Regions from separate parts of the Homo sapiens genome. Here region 2 is linked to region 1. Evidence: fine-mapped expression QTL. A gene starts in region 1. The other region holds a variant in brackets. All regions are shown on one strand. Distances are between the middles of the regions.

Region 1 (2,925 bases):
TCCCTCTGAGAGTCAGCTCTTGGCCAGCTATTGAGCCTTTATAGAGACTGAATGGCTGACCATGAACCACCATGTTATCATATGTCCTGAGCTGCTCATCATGAATTGGTGGCTACCTGACCCACAAAGCCATAAAGTTGAGAGTACATAGCAACACTCGTCCATCAAATGGATGTGACTGGGGCTAAGCAGGTCCTGAAGGCACAGGTAAGTGACATTAAGAAGTGGCCCAAATGCCCATGATCCCCACTCCTGCTACACTTCCTGCTCTCTGCCAGCCTGCAGCTATGAAGTCATTAAAAAATTCCCTATGAGCAGTTGACAGAGGAAGAGAAGACTCAGCCTGGTTTACAGAGGATTCTGCAAAATATGCAGGCATAACACAAAAAGGGACAACTGCACCCCTATAGCCCCTCTCAGGGATATCCCTGAAGGACAGTGGTGAATGAAAATCCTCCCAGTGGACAGAACTTCAACCATTCCACCTGATGATTCACTTTTCTTAGAAAGAGAAATGGCTAGAGAGGTGATTACCTGCCAATTCATGGTCTGTAGCGAGTGTTCTTCTTTTTCTGGATGATCAGAAACTTAGAAAGGACACATGGAAAAATTGGTGACAAAAAATTTGGGGAAGAGAGATGTGGGCACACCTCTATGAATAAGCAAAAAATAATGGATATATTGTATTTCATGTGAATGCTCACCAAAGGGTGAGCTTGGCAGAGAAGGATTTTAACATTAAAGTGGATGGAATGACCCATTGTGTGGATGAATACAAATCAGTCTCTTTCTCCAGCCAACTTTGTCATTTCCCACTGGGCTCAGGAACAAAGAGGCCATGGTAGCAAGGATGGAAGTTACGCATGGGCTCAGAAACATGGACTTCCACTCAACAAGGCTAACCGGACTGTAGAAAACTGAGTGTCTAATCTCCCAATGGCAGAGACCAACACCTGGCTCCTAATATGACACCATTCCCTGGGGTGATTAGCCAACACCTGGTAGCAGGCTGATTGATTACCTTAGAAAACATCTGTCATGAAAGGGGCAGTATTTTGCCCTTCCTGGAATAGATGCTCTGAATATGGATTTGCCTTTCTTGCACACCACAACTACCATCTGTGAACTTAACTCACTGGCTTGTCCATTTTCATAGTCTTCCAGATCACATTGCTTTTGATGAAGGAACTCACTTCACAGCAAGGGAAGTGCAGCAATAGGGCCAGGAACATGAAAATCATTGGTCTTACTATGTTTTCCACCATTCTGAAGCTTCTGGCCTGATACATTGATGGAATTGTCTTTTGAAGACTCAGTTACAGTGCCACCTAGGTGGCAATACCTTGCAGGAATGGTTCTCCAGAAGGCTGTATATGGTCTGAATCAGGGTCAAATATATGATGCTATTTATGTGGTAGCCAGAATTCATGGGTCCAGGAATCAAAGAATGGAAGTGGGAGTGGCATCATTCACTACTGCGCCTAGTGACTCACAAGCAAAATGTTTACTTCCTGTTTCCATGACATTATGCTCTGCTGGCCTAGACGTCTTAGTTCCAGAGGATGGAATGCTTCACCAGGAGACACAAGAATAATTTCCTTGACCTGGGAGTTAAGACTGCCACCCAGCCACCTTGTGCTCTCCATGCTGCTGATTCAACAGGCAAATAAGGAAGTTATGGTGTGGGCTACAGTGATTGATCTGACTAACAAGAGGGAAATTGCTCCACCATGGGGGTGAGGGAGAGTACATCTGGAATACAGAAGTTCCCTTAGGACACCCTTAGTGTTCCCACACATTGCGATTAAGGCCAGTGGAAAACTACAATAACTCAGTTCAGGCGGAACAACTCATGGGGCAGAATCTTCAAGGAATGAAGATTTGAGTCCTTCTACCAGGTAAGGAAACAGGACCAGCTAAGGGAGTTGCTGAAGGCAAGGGTTGTACAGGATAGGAGTAGAAGGTAGTTATAAATACTAGCTACAACTATGTGGCCAGTTCCAGAAATGAGGACTATAATTGTCATGAGTATTATCTCCTAATTTTGTTATGAATATGCTTGTATGTATGTGTATATACATATGTTAAACACTATCTTTGTTATTTATCCTCTTTTGATTTTCCATATCAGGTAACATAAGCTATACTGACTCTTGTATAAGGATTTAAGTATTGTTCATTTTACTTCATAGTATTTAAGTTATGGAACATCAGGAGAAAAATGTCACTCAAGGACTTCATCTCCTTTTCTGAGGAAGACATTACTGTGTATTTGGTAGTATGAAAATTGTTGTATCATGTTAGGTGAAATCACGATGTTATTGTTATCTTTATCTGGAGATTAGGTATGATTTAAGGAGATACATAAGCCAAATTGATAAGAGGTAGATCTGTAATTATTAATTTTATATGCCAACTTGACTGAGCTAAGGGATCCCCAGAAAACTAGTAAAATTTTATTCTGGACACGTATGTGAGGGTGTTTCTGGAAGAGATTAGCACTTGAATGAGTAGACTGTGTTAAGATCATCTGCCTTCACCAGTACAGGTGGGCACCCATATTCAGAAGGACTGAATAGAACAAAAGAGGGGAAGTTTCTTTCTCTGCTTGAGCTGAGACATCCATTTTCTCCTGCCCTTGGACTTTGATGTTCATGGTTCTTGGGTCTTTGAACTCAGACCAGGGCTTATACCAGTGCCTTCCTGGTTTTCAGGCCTTTGGATTTGGGATGGAATTACACCACCAGCTTTCTTGGGCCTCAAGATTACAGAGGAAAAATTATGGGGCTTCTTACCTTCATAATGACATGAGTCAATCCCTTATAATAAATATTCTCCTGTCTCTCTCTCTCCGTGTGTGTGTGTGTGTGTGTGTGTGTGTGTATACAGAAAGAGAAGTCTATACATCTATCTCTACATAGATAC
Region 2 (2,925 bases), 42 kb before region 1:
TATGGAATATGAGAAAATGATCATAAATTACAGCAAGAGTGATTTAGGTTCAGAATGGCAAAAAGAATATTTTCTTGCTGTTTATGCATGGAAACCGATTACTCGGGAAATAGAACTATCTCTTTCCCAGCGATAACAAGAAATTGTTTCCTGCTTATTTTCAGTTGTTTAGAAGAGGGCACTTGGAGGTGGACTGGGCTGCTGAAGGGGGTCATTTTGAGAGACCTGTTGAAATCCTCAAGCTGTATTATATAAATACAAGATGTGCTATTGAGATGTGCTATTAAGCTAGACACCTACCAGTGCTTCAATCCTATGCATCCTCAAGTAGCCTTCAACAGTTAATACAAGTTTTAAAATACCTTTAGTTCTGAAAATTGTTGAAAACGTTGAGAGTGAAAACATTGAAAAATCTCAAGTATTTCAGGTAATAAAGAAATCATTACTGGATTTTTCTGTTTTCAATTGCTATTTCATTTATTTTCCTCACTCAAAACATTCTTTGCCCAGGCTGATGCAACTTAGTTTGCTTTATTCACCCAAAATATAGGACTTGATGTTTCCTTCCTTATACAACTTCCTACTCAAATCCCCTATCTTCCTTAAAGGCCGTGAAGGTGTTCTCTGCTTCCTTATCCTTTCAACCAGTCCCAGAAAGTTGTTTCCCTTTTCGTTAAGAGGCATAAAAATGTCAGTGCCACTGAATATACAATATCTTTATTCTCATCATCTAGGAGACAGGATGTGGTTAGGGTGTTAAATGTCAGGCATGTCAGATTTCACTTCCTGCTTCATAATCAATCCAATATGGGTCTACCAGGTCCCTGTTATATCCAAGCTTTTCCAAGATCTTGCTTCTAATCTGACCTGGACTGCTCTTACTTCAATTACCCAGGGACAAAGTTAACAATACCTGGCAATAACCCTCCCCTTCATCTACCTCCTGGCCCTTCTTCCATCTCCAGGGTTATAAAAATGAAGGAAATGTGTTACGACTGATTCACATGGCTTGGGAGTTGCTTGCTGGATGATTTCATAGTCTGGCTATTAGCTGTGAAGAAATATAATACCATCTTTACATATCTGGTTTTAGTTGGGAGGGAAAGGCTCAAATTAAAGCCTCAAGAGAGGCAGAGGGAATGGAGTGAAAGAGCATTAGAATTCTGGGGACTCAGTCTGATGATTTAGTAGGATGATTAGATGGAGTATTTATCCTGCTAATGTTGGTGTTTGATGCTCCAGTTTTTTTACTTGTGGTTTGTGTGCCAGGGTGGGAAGTGACTCTGGGGAATACCATGCTGGCTTAGGTGGAAGGAAATACTGGGGAGAGAATGCACAGCTTTTTGGCTGGTTGATTTCCCCTGGTGGAGGGGTTAATGATGAGGTTGGCAGCCAAAAAGCCAGAGCTCTTGGGTTCAACTTTAGATCCCATTACCGCATTGATGGGTG[G/C]TCTTGAGACAAAATCCTGTAATGGTTAAGAGGTTGGGCTCTGGGATCAGGCTGATGAACGCTCAAGCTCTGTGGCCTTGTGAAAATAAGCCCCATGTCTTTGTGTCTCAGTTTTCTTAAGTAAAAAAAGCAGATAATAATTGTGTTTAAATGAGATAAGGTATGAATTGTGCTAAGCGTAGTGCCTGAAACATGAAGACAGCTCAAAATGAGAAGGAGGAGGACAATGGAAATAAAACAGAATATCTGGATTTCTTTTTCTTTTTGATTCAGCAAATTTTTATTGAATGCCTATTATGAATCAATAAGTGCACATGATATTTTGAATGAAAAAAGGGCACCTTGAACACAGCTCTCACCCTGGAGACTTACCATCTCACTGAAAAAAAAAAATTAAATATCAGGCTACTTAAGTAAATGTGATGAGAGTTTAAGAATTCAGGAAAGAGGGTAACTATACATTGGAGTAAAGAATGTCATGAAAATATTTAAAATATTTAGGGTAAATTAGAAAATATTTTGTGGTTTCCATGAAACTATTGGAAACAGCAGTTATAGAGAAGAGAACTAACCTTGAATTAGAGGGTATGGATTTAAATTCAGTGGCTCTGTCACCTTTTTGTGTTGTCCTGGGGACTCTTTCACCTCTCTTTATTTGAGTTTCCACATCTGTAAAATTAATATAAGAGATGATGCATGGATTTCATGAGCATAGAGCAGGATCACATACATGTGCTTTGCACTAGGGAATATTCAAGAAGTAAATATGAAACAAACGCTTACTTCCTCTGTCTCTCTTCCTTTCTCTTTCTTTTTGTCAGAGCGACAGTGGCTCTCATTTGATTCCCTCAGTTCCTATGCTATTTGTGTGGAAATAAGCAGATTCACAGTTAAAAAACCATTCATATGTGTGCCAGGATGATTCACTGGACATGTCCTATTTCTCTTGCATCTTTCCACAGCCTCTTGAGTGCTCCCTGACCAGAGTTGCTGCCACATAAGGTGCAGGTGGATGGAGCCAGGGCTTGCTGCTTGAATGTCTGCCATCTGCTCTTGTCTCTGCAAGAGCTTCACTGGGTGAGGCTAGTTTACTCACCCTACAGTCTAGAAAGAGTTTACAATGCTAATTCCTGCTTCAGGGAAGCTATAGGAAGATGACTTAGCACCAGAAGTTGAAGATTCTTCCAGAGGAAAAGCCCTGTCTCAGTTTTACATAAGACTTTTTACTGTGTTATCCTTCACTCTCCTGGGTGACTTTGTCACCTCTCCAGGATCTAAAAGGCCTTTGAGTAATATCATAAAGAGACCCAATGTTTTCCCTCCAGGCCACTCTAGGGCTGCTTTTCTTGGTCTCAACAATTTCACAAAGCACTTTCTTTTCTTAATATAATAATATGCTAGAAATGAAAATATTTCAGCAAACTGTACGATCACAGCATAGTTGATGAGGAACTGTCCTGCACTTGTCAAAGTGCA

The links. PIP is the estimated chance that this variant, and not a neighbour inherited with it, causes the effect. A credible set is the group of variants that fine-mapping cannot tell apart.
Region 2: its variant is the best candidate, but not a certain one, in a credible set for the expression of LINC02725 in blood mononuclear cells (TOPMed, PIP 0.75).

Annotation. Positions count from the first base shown.
Region 1 is chr11:128,094,202-128,097,126 of GRCh38, forward strand. It overlaps LINC02725 (long intergenic non-protein coding RNA 2725), which reads left to right and starts at 1,558. Exons shown (of 6, transcript NR_183639.1): 1 at 1,558-1,898.
Region 2 is chr11:128,052,275-128,055,199 of GRCh38, forward strand. LOC107984374 (a long non-coding RNA gene) reads right to left here and starts at 2,461. Exons shown (of 2, transcript XR_001748082.2): 1 at 2,022-2,461. The variant G/C (reference allele first, on the strand shown) is at 1,450.